4 linked regions of the Homo sapiens genome follow. The protein of the gene in region 4 purifies or fractionates together with the protein of the main gene of each other region. This does not show direct contact. Each region holds a gene or a part of one and is shown on either strand. Other genes may lie near its edges.

Evidence for each region.
Region 1: the proteins of MYH6 (region 4) and UMPS purify together in Homo sapiens (affinity purification with mass spectrometry; one large-scale study listed by BioGRID and IntAct). This does not show direct contact.
Region 2: the proteins of MYH6 (region 4) and MAGEB3 purify together in Homo sapiens (co-immunoprecipitation; one large-scale study listed by IntAct). This does not show direct contact.
Region 3: the proteins of MYH6 (region 4) and SPICE1 purify together in Homo sapiens (affinity purification with mass spectrometry; one large-scale study listed by BioGRID and IntAct). This does not show direct contact.

The regions. Positions count from the first base shown.
Region 1 is NC_000003.12:124,740,434-124,743,951, forward strand, and holds part of UMPS (uridine 5'-monophosphate synthase), read left to right. Parts: intron 1-1,718; coding exon 1,719-1,833; intron 1,834-3,481; coding exon 3,482-3,518. UniProt on the Homo sapiens protein: Bifunctional enzyme catalyzing the last two steps of de novo pyrimidine biosynthesis, orotate phosphoribosyltransferase (OPRT), which converts orotate to orotidine-5'-monophosphate (OMP), and orotidine-5'-monophosphate decarboxylase (ODC), the terminal enzymatic reaction that decarboxylates OMP to uridine monophosphate (UMP).
Region 2 is NC_000023.11:30,233,639-30,235,825, forward strand, and holds part of MAGEB3 (melanoma-associated antigen B3), read left to right. Parts: intron 1-2,187.
Region 3 is NC_000003.12:113,508,657-113,512,174, reverse strand, and holds part of SPICE1 (spindle and centriole-associated protein 1), read left to right. Parts: intron 1-3,518.
Region 4 is NC_000014.9:23,380,319-23,385,186, forward strand, and holds the end of MYH6 (myosin-6), read right to left. Parts: intron 4,724-4,868; coding exon 4,598-4,723; intron 4,400-4,597; coding exon 4,124-4,399; intron 3,003-4,123; coding exon 2,907-3,002; intron 2,245-2,906; coding exon 2,110-2,244; intron 1,746-2,109; coding exon 1,722-1,745; 3' UTR 1,669-1,721; downstream 1-1,668. UniProt on the Homo sapiens protein: Muscle contraction.

The DNA of each region.
Region 1 (3,518 bases), on a different chromosome or scaffold from region 4:
ACCCAGATAGTTAGTCAAACAAACACTTACTAAATCTACCAGGACTTTAAGATAATGTCTTTTTCATCTTACCATGAATTGAGAGAAGATGAGAAGAGCTTCCCAGACATGCAGTTTCTCAGAATCTCCCAAGTCCTACAGAGATGCACATTCCCATGACAGCAGCCCACATGCAGTGGCTTTCTCTTATTCTTGTCAGATATTTTAGAATATAATATTACTTTAAAAAAATTGCCATAGGGGGCTGGGCGCAGTTGCTCACACCTGTAATCCTAGCACTTTGGGAGGCCAAGGCGGGAGGATTGCTTGAGGCCAGGAGTTGGACGTCATAGTGAGATCTCGTCTCTACAAAAAAATGAAAAAGAAAATAACCAGGCATGGTGGTACGTGCCTATAGTCCCAGCTGCTTGGGAGGCTGAGGTGGGAGGATCGCTTGAGCTTGAAGTTCAAGGCTGCAGGGAGCCATGATCATGCCACTTTACCTCAGCCTGGGCAAGAGTAAGAGCCTGTCAAAAAAAATTAAAAATAAAAAGCCCCAAGAAAATCCCCATGATTTTTTTAAAAATGAAATCCCCAAGACAATCCCCATGTGAAGATTCTAGAAGTAAAGGATTTCCATTTTTTCATATTATTTCAGACTATTTGGAGACTTAACTCATATGGCCCTACAGTCAGGTTTTAACCCTATCCCTGAATTGACTATAACTGTCTGATTTCCCAAGTCTCAAAATCACAGGGGCCATGAGTCAGTTTTAATATTTGGCATTCTGGGAGTCTGGGTCTGGCTCAAGGACAAGACATGACTTGTTTGTTGGCAGTAGTACTTGGTGGCAAGAATGAATGTATCAATGTGTGTCTCAGGTCTCGAAGTACCGAGGCTGGAGTGCAGTGGTGGTACTGAGTCTGGTCTCCGGGAAGTATCAAATAAGAAGGGAAGTATGGGAGTCACGTCTCGGGGAAAGTACCTACCGAATCAGAAAGCCAGGCAGACCTTCTAAAGAGACTTTTATGAATGTGAGATAATAGTATAGAAATTGGGGAGACCAGTTGATGTTACAGAAGAGGGAAAGTGGTAGAGGTGAGATTTCTTTAGCTCTTGAAAGCGTAGCTGTTCTTTACATGACAGCTGCCTTTGGATATGGAGTACCCCGTCTGTAGATAGTCAGTAAGCCTTGAATGTGGTTTCATACCATTATAATATGTTCTAGAGTACTCGCCTCAAATCCTTTTTGGAAGTAGGTGGGTCACCAAGCATTATTAGAAATAAGAAATTATGCAGCATCTTGATTTTAGATGCATATAGTATAGGATTTCTGCTTTACGTATGGTTTATTGCGGGAAGGGAAGGGAAAGGGTCATCTCAGAGTCTTAATGAAGCAGATGTGTTTTATTATGGTTTCTATCTAAGATGACCTGTTTCAGATATAGTAACTTTATATATATGGAATGAGAAAAGGCATCTATAATACAGCAAAGTTTCTAACTAGATAATAGAGCATAAGCCAGGCATGGTGACTTACAACTGTAACCCCAGCACTTTGGGAGGCCAAGGTAGGAGGATCCCTTGAGCCCAGGGGTTCAAGACCAGCCAGGGAACATAGGGAGACCTCATGTCTTTTTTTTTTTTTTTTAAGTTTTGAAAAAATAGAGCATATTTTTACTTTTATTCTGTGTGATTAACTGTTTTCTTATAATATGTCCTATTACATTCCATTTAGGTTAGAATGGCTGAGGAGCACTCTGAATTTGTTGTTGGTTTTATTTCTGGCTCCCGAGTAAGCATGAAACCAGAATTTCTTCACTTGACTCCAGGAGTTCAGTTGGAAGCAGGAGGTAAATCTGGTCACTGGTCGTGGCTCTTCCAAAAATGCTTCTTTACCCATGGCAGGCAAAATAAAACTTTGCATATTATTATACACTTGCTTAAGAAAAGCCTTCTTAGTCTAGAACAATAATGAATGAGCCCTTTGGTAACTATGTATCTTTGGACAAGTCAGTTTACTTCTTTTAGTCTAATTGTCTGTAAAATGGGGATGATAACAGTATTGACCTCATAAGGTAATCAAGATGCTTTAATGAGATAACATGTAGAATATTTAACACAATGTCTTGGCACAGAGTAAACACTCTGTACTTATAAGCCCTTATTCGTAAGCCCTAATAATTGTTTGACTAGATATTATAGTTAGGGTCTAGGCTTTTAAGAATACTTAAAGTATCTTGGATTTGGAAGATAATAAGCCATTTAACAGAATGCTTCTGAAACAGCGGAATTTAATAAAAAAGCAAAATTTAAGGATTCGGGTTTATGGATAGTCTGTGTGACCACTTGATGGGGTTCTTGTATATGGTAGTGGTCAGGTTAGACTTGCTCAGCAGTGCCTTGTGGTGATTCTAAGATGTGTGCTAAAATTTTCTTCAATTGTGAGGCCAATCTTTATTGTATTTTTTTGATATTGAACCTTTCTTTGCAACATATGAGTTTTACTTCTTTTTTTAATATATTGTTAAGCTACAGATGATCTAAAATTTGACATTGAGGGGGTGAATATTTAGGGCAACTTGAATTTATGCTTCTGGAAAAAAATTACATGAAAAAATAATGATAAAATAAATAAGGCTGGGTGCGGGGGCTCACGCTCGTAATCCCAGCACTTTGTGAGGCCGAGGTGGGCAGATCACCTGAGGTCAGGAGTTCAAGACCAGCTTGGCCGACATGGTGAAACCCTGTCTCTACTCAAAATACAAAAATTAGCCGGGCGTGGTGGTGCACGCTTTTAATCCCAGCTACTCGGGAGGCTGAGGCAGGAGAATCGCTTGAATCCGGGAGGCGGGGGTTGCAGCGAGCTGAGATTGTGCCATTGCACTCCAGCCTGGGTGACAGAGCAAGACTCTGTCTCAAAAAAATAAATAAATAAATAGGGCGGGGCGCAGTAGCTCATGCCTGTAATCCCAGCACTTTGGGAGGCTGAGGCGGGCGGATCATGAGGTCAGGAGATCGAGACCATCCTGGCTAACACGGTGAAACTCCATCTCTACTAAAAAATACAAAAAATTAGCCAGGCGTGGTGGCAGGCGCCTGTAGTCCCAGCTACTCGGGAGGCTGAGGCAGGAGAATGGCATGAACCTGGGAGGCAGAGCTTGCAGTGAGCCGAGATAGCACCACTGCACTCCAGCCTGGGTGACAGAGCGAGACTCCGTCTCAAAAAAATAAATAAATAAAAATAAATAAATAAATAAATAAATAAAATAAACTTTACCATTGAAAAGGAGTTGGTGATCATCTTTCTCCATTTGACGTCTCTGGCCTACCCAGTGAGTCTCTTCAGCTCCTGTTTTTACGCAGTTGCTGTACAAAAGGGGAACGAAAGTAGGGGCATGTTTTTATTTAAAGCTGGTTAGATACTTTTTCAGAGAAGTCATGTGACAGGTTTTCTGATTTTTGTATTATGTGAAACAACAATTTTTGTGTTTCTTGCAGGAGATAATCTTGGCCAACAGTACAATAGCCCACAAGA
Region 2 (2,187 bases), on a different chromosome or scaffold from region 4:
GGTGTTACTCTGCTCCGCTTAGTAACAAGGTGAGAACCCTGAATAAGGACCTAGGGACCACTGACTCCAGAACAGTGGGGTCCCAGCGTGTCACCCCCTGCTGTCAGCCCTCGGAGACCCAGAGCGGGACGTGTCTCACCCTCACAACTCCCTGCCCCTTACAAAAGGGGACCCACACGTCTCACCCTTGTGGTTGACCCTGGGAGGTCCTGGTTGAGTTCTGTCTGGAAAGGCACCCAGAGGGAGGGTCTTTCACTAAGGGAGCAGCCCCAGTTATTCAGTTGGCGGGGACCTGGACCCTAACTGGAGCCAAGGTGAAGTCTCCGAGTGCTAAAGGATGGGATCTGTTCCCAGTAGGGGCGTCAACAGAAAGCAGCAGCAGCCCTACTGGTTAGCATCCTCCTGGTTAGCACCAGTGGTCCTTGTCTTTTTTATTTATTTTTATTTTTTTTCAGACAAGGTCTCACTGCTGCTAGCCAGTTTAGAAGGCTCCAGACAAGTGTAGTCATAAGCGGAGGCCCTGACTTCCCCATCCAGGGAGGGAAGTGTTCAGGGAGATGAGGGTTTTGTTTGGAGGTTGGCGAACTCAGGTCAGTAGAGGGAGAAATTTCAGGCTGTGATAAGATACCAAGGTGAAGACCCTGAATGAGAATCTAGGGACCAGCAACTCCAAAACAGTGAAGTCTCATAGAGTTCCACCCGTGTTGTCAGCCATCAGACCCCAGGAAGCTGTGAACAGATAAGGCTCTTCCTCACTTCCTTGGAAGTGCTTTGAAGGGGAGGATCTGGAGGCGAGGGGCACGGGATCTCTTCGGCAGAGGGTGAATTCCTTGGACTGTCTGGAGTCAAGGTCAGGACCCTGAATGTGCATGAAAGGGACCACCATCCCCCAACCTGTAACAAAGAGGGCCACACTAAATCCTGCCCCGGAAGTCTTCCCTGGGAATACCTTGAAAGCTGTCTGACAGATATCTACCTGGAAAGTCTCAGGGAGGGAAGGGCCTTGGTCTAAGAAAGTAGCCCCAGTTCAGCAGGTGGAAGAGAGACTTGGGTCCTAACTGGAGTCAAGGTGAGGGCCCTGAGTGCTAATGAAGCAATCTCTCTGCAATAGAGGTGTCAACACAAACAATGTCCTTGCACTCATTTTGCAACCTCCAGGCAAAGGTATTCATAGGTGAGGGGTCCCTGACTTCCCTGTCTAGGGTCTTGTTCTGAGGCTGGAGGACTTAGGTTAATGGAGGGAAGTGTCCCACATCCTACTAAGAGTCAAGGTCAGAGACCTGAGAGAAAACTAAAGGGAACACTCTCTCTAAAAAGTAGAGTCCCACAAATTGTGCCTCTTCTCTCAGCTCCAGGAAGCCTTGGAATAACGTCAGCCCCCCTTACTGCCTAGAGAGTGCCAGAAAGGTTGAACTAATTACATGCCCCAGTTCTGCAGAGGGAAGAGTGAGGAGACCCAGAGCCTTACAGGGGTCACAGTGAGGACCCTGAATGAAGACTAGTGATACAACTCCTCCCACATAAAGAAGAGACAACAAAGATTCCCCCACTCCCCACTTGCAGCGCTGATGAGGCTGGGCATGGAGGTCAGGTGTATGTGAACTCACCTTCTTTTAATGGCATTAGGTTGCTGAGAGCCTTTATCTAAAGTGAGGGGCATCAGAGCAGCAGAGGCAGCTGTCCTAGGTCCTATCTAGAGACAAGATGAGGACTATGAATGAGGTGTCAGGACTCCAATAAGCCCAGGAAAGAGTAGGACTCCACAATGCTGTTAGCACCCAGTTCCTCCTGTCAGGGGTGGTAAGGCTGAGACATTCCTTCACCTCCTCTTAGGTGGTCCCAAGGAGATGAGGACATTTGCTGGAGGTGTCAAATTTAGTGCAGCACAGGGGAGAAGACCCAGCCCTGACAGTTTTTATGATGGTCCTGAGTGTGAACTGAGAGAAACCTCCTACCCCAGAGTAAAAGGAGATCCACAAGGACTAGACATGCCACGGCTGCTCTCAGTCCCAGTATACACAGAACAGGGCTGGCAGGCTGTGGCCTAAGGCACACTTTAATTACTTTCACAGGGTTCTCAGAGGACAAACTGATCAGAACAGAAGCCCTCTGGGTTTCCAGAGCAGTGCTCTCACAGAAAACTGCAGAGGCGACCTTCTTTTAAATCCAAAGTGGTACCTCTCTGCT
Region 3 (3,518 bases), on a different chromosome or scaffold from region 4:
CACAATTTCTGTGGGTTGTGAGTTTGGACATGGCTTAGTTAGATTCTTTGCTTAGGGTCTTCCAAAGCTGTAATCAAGTCGTTGGCCAGTATGCATTCTCATCTGGAGTTTTAGCTTCTGAATAAGTAAAATATTCTAAATGTAACTTGAAATACTTTTCCCCCCATTTTTAAGAGTAACATAGGTCCATTATAGAAAATTTGGGAAATATAAAAGCAAACAGAGGTAACCCAATTCTGGCAAAGTTTTCCAGCATGTGCTTTACAGTCAGTCAGACCTGGTCTTGAGTGTCAGCTCTTGGCTCTGCCTGTTATTATTTGTATAACTTTGAGCTATATACTTTCTCTAAGCCTCATTTTTCATTTTTTTTGAATTTTAATATTCTTAATATTTTTAAATTTTGTTTCAAGTTCTAGGGTACACGTGCGGTATGTGCAGGTTTGTTTCATAGGTAAACGTGTGCCATAGTGGTTTGCTGCATCTATCAACCCATCACCTAGGTATTAAATCTAGCGTGCATTAGCTATTTTTCCTGATGCTCTGTCTCCCTGCATCCCCCTGCCATCTGACAGGCCCCAGTGTGTGTTGCTCCCCTCCCTGTGTCCATGTGTTCTCATTGTTCAGCACCCACTTATAAGTGAGTACATGTGGTGTTTGATTTTCTGTTCCTGCATTCGTTTGCCAAGTGTAATGGCTTCCAGTTCCATCCATGCCCCTGCAAAGGACATGATCTCATTCCTTTTTATGGCTTTATAGTATTCCATGGTTTATATGTACCACATTTCTTTATTCAGTCTATCAATGATGGGCATTTGGGTTGATTCCATCTCTTTGCTATTGTGAATAGTGCTGCAGTGAACATATATGTGTGTGTATCTTTATAATTGAATGATTTATTTTCCTTTGGGTATATATGCAGAAATGTGATTGCTGGGTCAAATGGTATTTCTGGTTCTAGGTCTTTGAGGAATCGCCACACTGTCTTCCACAATGGTTGAACTAATTTGCATTTCCACCAACAGTGTAAAATTGTTCCTATTTCTCCACAGTCTTGCCAGCATGTGTTGTTTCTTGACTTTTTAATAATCGCCATTCTGACTGGCATGAGATGGTATCTCACTGTAGTTTTGATTTGCATTTCTCTAACGATCAGTGATGTTGACTTTTTTTCATACGTTTGTTGGCTGCATAAATGTCTTCTTTTGAGAAGTTTGTGTTCATGTCCTTTGCCCACTTATTAATGGGGTTGTTTGTTTTTTTGTCAATTTAAGTTCCTTGTAGACTCTGGATATTAGCCCTTTGTCAGATGGAGAGATTGCAAAATTTTTCTCTCATTTTGTAGGTTGTCTGTTTGCTCTGATGATAATTTCTTTTGCTGTGCAGAAGCTCTTTAGTTTAATTGGATTCCATTTGTTAAGTTTTGCTTTCGTTACAATTGCTTTTGACATTTTCATCATGAAATCTTTGCCTGTGTGTATGTGCTGAATGGTATTGCTTAGATTTTCTTCTAGGGTTTTTATAGTTTTGGGTTTTACATTTAAGCCTTTAATTATCCTGAGTTGATTTTTGTCTATGGTGTAAGGAAGGGGTCCCGTTTCAATTTTCTGCATATGGCTCACCAGTTCTCCCAACACTATTAAGTAGGGAATCCTTTCCCCATTGCTTGTTTTTGTCAGGTTTGTTGATGATCAGATGGTTGTAGATGTGCAGTCTTATTTTTGAGTTCTCCATTCTGTTCCGTTGGTCTATATGTCTGCTTTTGTAGCAGTACCATGCTGTTTTGGTTACTGTAGCCTTGTAGTATAGTTTGAAGTAGGGTAGCATGATGCCTCCAACTTTGTTCTTTTTGTTTAGGATTGTCTTGGCCATATGGGCTCTTTTTTGGTTCCATATGAATTTTAAAATAGTTTTTTCTAATTCTGTGAAGATGTTAATGGTAGTTTAATAGGCATAGTATTGAATCTATAAATTACTTAAAAATGCCAGTATGGCTATTTTCACTGTATTGATTCTTCCAGTCTCATTTTTCTTATTTGGGAAAAGGGTTAATTGTTGTCACTGACATCATTATCCTCAACATTTAAATACAATTTTGTATGCTAGGCAGGTGTATTAGTTCATTCTCATGCTGCTATAAAGAAATACTCGAGACTGGGTAATTTATAAAGAAAAGAGGTTTAATTGACTCACAGTTTTGCAGGCCTCAGGAAACTTACAATTATGGCAGAAGGCCAAACAGAAGCAGGTACCTTTTTCACAAGGTGGCAGGAGAGAAAGTGAGTGCAAACAGGGGAAATGCCAGACACTTATAAACCCATCAGATCTCATGAGAATTCACTATCATGAAAACAGCAAGAGGGAAACTGCTCCCCATGATCCAATCACTTCCCACTGGGTCCCTCTCATGACACATGGGGATTATAGGGATTACAATTCGAGATGAGATTTGGGTGGGGACTCAGCCAAACCATATCAGCAGGGGTTCTAAGCACTTATATATTTAATTAGTTCTGTTTTATAGTTAGTGAAAAAGCTGGGATGTGAACCCAGACAGTGATTCCAGACTGTATTCTTAGCCTTTATACTATATTGTCTCTCAAGACAGAACAGGCTTCACAGGGTTGTGGGATCAAATGTGAAGCTCTTAGCAGAGATAAGTGCTTTATTAATAATGCCTATATTCTAACATCATTGAGAATATACTATACATACAGTTCTGTATTCTACTTTTTATACTTCTTATGTATTTTCCTGTCATTAAACATTTTTAATTTTAATGGATACATAATTCATCATATAGGTATACTGACATTTTATGACTCTTGTTTTTGCAGAGTAAATTGGAGATATAAGTGGTTAAAGATCTAAGTGGTTAAAATACATTAGATTCATGTCTTTGAATAACTATTGTTTTCCTATCTTTTAAAATAACAGCTTTATTGAGCTATAATTCACCCTTTAAAGTATACAGTTCAGAGGTTTTTAGTCAATTCACATAATTGCGCAACTAACATTACTATCTAATTTCAGAACATTTTCTTCACTCCCCAAAGAAACACTATACCCATTAGCAGTCACTCTCCATTATATGCTCCCTCTAGATGCTGGCAATCACTAATCTATGTCTCTGTGGATTTACTTATTCTGGACACATCATATCAATGATACCAAACAATAGGGGGCCTTCTGTGTTTAGAACCCTTTCAAGATTCATTCATGTTGTAGCATGTATCAGTACACCATTGCTTATTATTGCCAAGTAATAGTCCATTGTGTAGATATACCACATTTTATTAATACATTCATCAGTTGGTGGACATTTGGGATGTCTCTACTTTTTGTCTGTTCAAAATGCTGCTGTGACCTTTTATGTACAAGTTTTTACGTGGACGTATGTTTTTAGTTCTCTTGGATGTAAATATGTGAGTTGAATTGCTGGGTCATGTTGTTACTCTGTGTTTAGCTTCTTGAGGAATTGCCAGCTGTTTCCAAAGTGCCCACACTATTTTACATTCCAT
Region 4 (4,868 bases):
AACGCAGCTCTTCTGACACCTAAGCGAGTGTTCTGGATACTGTACTGAGCCTCCTTGTAGCTCAGAAAAGAATGGCCAACTCTTCCCTCCACTGCGGGTCCACCCTCCCAGCTTGCCAGCTCCTCAGCACACATTTCCTGAGCATCTCCCATGCACACTGTGCTGGGTGCCAGGGCCTCAGAGGTGACGGGGGGCCTGCCCTTTAGCACTCACAGGCTGGGAAAGAGACAAGCTGGTCAAGAGCTCCCCACAGTGAATGCTATGGGAAGGCTCAGGGGAGTTTGGAGCAGACACTGCCACAGCCCGGGAGTCAGCCCTGCTGGGCCGAGACAGACAGATGTGCAGCCAGACGTTCCTGCCCAGCCCGAGGAGCCCAGCATGGCCTGGCTCAGCAGCTCCATCCCAGCTGACGTGCTATCTCCTGTCGCTGATGTGTGTGTGTTCCCGCCCTGAGATACAATCCTTCTTCTGGAGCGCTCCTTCCAGCTGCAGGCCCCAGCTCCCAAGTCCTGCCCGAACCCTGGATCTTGAACTCTGGTCAGAGCGCTCTGCTTCCTTGGTGGCAGCCACTCCTCTCTCTTGGTCTTTTTCCTGCCTCCTGCTTCCTGTTCTCCTATCCTTGTGTCCTGGCTCACCATCAGAACTGGCAGCCTCTCCTGGGCTAGAACCAACAGGATTTTGTGTTTCTCTGGTCACTGCTCACATTTCTCAGGGCTTTATGCACAGTCCATTCTCATGGTCTCAGAGGAGGGATAGAAGAGGCTCCACTTGGGGAGTCAGGGAGATGGGGTGCCAGGTGAACGGTTAAGGAGGCGGTCAGCAGAGCCTGGCTGCAAAGCCCAGTGGGGAGTGGGGATTTGCTTTGTGCAGAACGGGGTCAGGACCGGGCCTGTCCCACAAGCAGCTGTGTGATCCAGGCCAGACTGTCCCCAGTAGGAGCTTAGAGAGAGCAGAAATGTGACCACAGTGTTTCCCTGTACAGGCACCTGTGCCATCTGTGTCTGTGTGAGAACCAACATGAAATGAGCAATGCCCAGGCTTGGTCCTCATGGCATATTGGTTTGGGCTCAGTGTTGATTGGCCCCAGAGTCTCAAGATGCCCTCACGGTGAGGTGCTGAATCATAGGAGGCAGGGGGAGACCCCTGGGGAAGACAGGGAGGGGGCTCCCTGGGAGTTACTTCCTAGGGGCTGACTAGAATGGAATCTCTCCCATCTCCTTTCCCATACCTTAATTCTCAGCCAGCTCTGAGCCTTTTCTGGCATTGGTGGAAAATTCATTTCAGAAAGAATGGGTGTCCTAGGACACCTTTAATCATTGCAGCCTCAGGGGTGGGGTAGGTGGAGAGTGGCTTCAACTTCGGCACCAAAATTCTATCTCGTAGCATCTTGGACTGGCTCACCATTTTGATGCCATTGTTTTCTTCACTTTTGAAATTTCTCCCTCTCCACCCTTGTGTGGTTGACTGAGCAGAACTGGGACTCACAGCTGTCCACGTCAGGCAGAACACCTCACTCCTCTGCACCTCGGTCTCCTTCCTTGTGGATATGGGATGCCTTGGCTCTGGCAGCTCTGATACAGGGGCTGGGGGCCTCCCTCCTCTCAGGCCCCCTACTGCCCTGATCCAGGATGGACAGCTGGCAGGAAGGACAGATGGGCTCAGGCAGAGTTTGGCACTCATATTTATTACAGGTTGGCAAGAGTGAGGTTCCCGAGGCAGTGTCACTCCTCATCGTGCATTTTTTGCTGCAAAAAGAATAAGAGGTGTGAGGGGGCAGCTGGCAAGAGGGAGAAGTGTGTGGGGACAAATCCCTGGGGCTTTCAGAGGCCTAAGGGAGATGCCCTTGGAGGGAGAGGCAGGGCCCCAGGGATCCTGTGGTCCCACGTTAGAGGCACTTGTGGTTTAGGGGGATGGAACTGGGGATCTCTGCAGAAGTTCCAGTCAGTGGGGGGCTGTTTTGAGCAGGAGAGTGGATTCTCAGGTTATGTAAGCTATGGGACCCTCAGAACTGCCTACATATAGGGCAAGCAGTGCCCACTCTGAAGGGCACCCATATCAGGGGGCATGCTAATGTGGAAGTGACTAGTGAAGCCCAGGGGAGGGACCCACCTTGGCACCAATGTCACGGCTCTTGGCTCGAAGCTTGTTGACCTGGGACTCAGCGATGTCCGCCCGCTCCTCTGCCTCATCCAGCTCATGCTGCACCTTGCGGAACTTGGACAGGTTGGTGTTGGCTTGCTCCTCCTGTGGTGGGACAGTGGGGATGGGTGAATGAGCTGGAGATGGGCTATGGGATTCTCAGCCTCTCAACCTGAGGTTCCAGCTCCCTGTCCCTGAGGCACCCATACCTCATGCATATTCCTGCAACAGCCTTCCCAAGGGTATCCTGCAACTGCCTTGCACTCTTCTCAAACATGTCCAGCACTCAGAGTCCTTCACGGCCATCCACTGCCCCAGACAAATCCCATGCTGCCCGATCTGGGCCCCTTCAGAATCCTGTTTTGCTGCACCTGTCCCGGACCCCAGCTTCCTGTGCAGGCATGCTAATCAGCAACTCACATCCACCCAGATGTCTTCCCCACTGCCCTGTGGCTAGCTGGGTCCCCTTCTAGGCCCAATTCCACCGCCACCTTCCTGCCTTCAGCTTCGGCTGCCCCACGTCCTGCACTAGCATCTACACTGCCTTCTGTTGGGTTATGGTATCTGAATTGTAAGCAGCTTGTAGGTGGTGCCTTTGTTAATTCAGAACACCTGACAGCTCTGAGCATACCAGATGTGTCAAACAAATGTTTGAGAGTTAAAGTTTATAGCAAACTCTTTGTCCAGGCCCCTCTGTAGGAGATATTCATTGGTTCTCACAAATAGTAGGTGTGTTGATGAGAAAGGGAAGAAAGCTCTGAACTCACCGCCTCCTCGGCCTGGCGCTTGTAGGCCTTGACCTTCAGTTGCAGCTTGTCCACCAGGTCCTGTAGCCGCAGCAGGTTCTTTTTGTCTTCCTCTGTCTGGGGGTGGGAGGGTGGGAGAAGCTGGTTTGGAGGGGGAGCAAATGCAATCACCTTTCCCTCCTCCATCATTTTACTCTTCTCCCCTTGCCTTTGCTGCCCCTCCCTGCAATGATCCAGGTCAAAGAGGTGGTGGGGAAGATTCTCTGACTCTATCGTAGGTCAAAGGGGCAATGCAAGGTTGTCAGTCAGGGATCCACAGAGCAATGAAGGCTGAAGTCATAAAGCTAGAAGTAGGGGGAGGGGCTCAGAACCTAATGGAATTCCCTAATGTGGTAATATAAAAGCACCAGGTCTGTTCCAGCTCCAGTATGGTGGATAAAGCTCCAACCTGGACTTACATAGGTTCTCTTGGCCAGTAGTTCTTGACCAGAAAAAGAATGCAGAAAGAAGGGGGTATTATCATAATCCAGATTATTCTACATTCTAATATATTGTACTGGGCCAGAATTCAGGCATCGGGATCACTGGCTCCAACGTCACTCGATCATTCCTATCTCTTTATCATTGTATGTGCCAGGATGCCATTTCTACTTCTGTCCACAAATCACTCTGTGGTTCTGTATCTGTAACCTCTTTCTTGTGCCTCTGGTATCCATCTATCAAATGGACTGACACCCTCGTCTCCTTGGCCTTTTCTTCCCAGGTACACTGAAAATAACGGGCCAAGGGCACAGCTCTCAGCTATGCAAGTGGAGGTTTTAGAGCATTCTAGGGTCCTCTTTCTCTGTGGCCTTCTCTTTGTGTGCCAGAAGTTCTATGGAAGATTTCCGGGTCTTTTCCCCTCCCCTGACTCTTATCCCCACAGTCGAAGGTGGAAGGATTCTTTGAACTGTTCTGAAGTCTTCATGGTAGCACTTAGAGTTATTAAAAAAAAAAAAAAAGAAAGAAAGAAACCTGGGGAAAGACTAGTTAGAAGAGTTTTCAGGAAGTAGAAGTAGATTCTTCATTTGCTGGAAAAACTCATAGACTCAAGTCAAACTGACTGCAGAGCGTGAGAAGAACGTTAAATCTACCAACAGCATCTCAAGGAGGAGGTGAGAGGAGCCCTGTGAGGGCGGGGCAGTGGGGCCAGAGAAGAAACTTCCACATCTACTCCTGGTGTCTGGCGTCCGCCGCACCTGGTAGGTGAGCTCCTTGATGCGCCGCTCGCTCTTCCTCATGCCCTTCACCGACTCTGCGTTGCGCTTCTGCTCGGCCTCCAGCTCACCCTCCAGCTCCCGCACCCGCGCTTCCAGCTTCTGCAGCTGCTTCTTGCCTCCCTTGAGGGCGATCTGCTCGGCCTCGTCCAGCCGGTGCTGCAGGTCCTTAATGGTCTGCTCCATGTTCTTCTTCATGCGCTCCAGGTGGGCGCTGGTGTCCTGCTCCTTCTTCAGCTCCTCTGCCATCATGGCGGCCTGTGTGCAGGAGAGAGGTGGCAAGGAACATGGGCCAGGGGCCGGGGCCTTTTGCCCCCCAAGGATCTCCTTTCTCCCATCAGGCCCTCAAATCCACAGAACTGCAGAGTTGGCTTGGTGTTACAGCACAGTGGCCTGGCCTGGACCCAAGGCCTTGTTTCTGTCTTTAGGGGAGGCGGAAGGTGGGCGGTCACTTACATCCGTGATGGCCTTCTTGGCCTTCTCCTCGGCGTTTCTGCACTCCTGCACTGCCTCCTCCACTTCCGACTGGAGCTGGGTCAGATCCGACTCCATCTTCTTCTTCTGGTTGATGAGGCTGGTGTTCTAGACATGGAGAGAGAAAAATGATCAAATATATACTACACTTTGTTACCTGATTTCATACCCTTTCTCCAGAAAGAATTAAAGGTGGTCATTTTTTTTTTAAAACAACAAGCCCACTTTTAGACTATTGATCGTTTTGTACCTG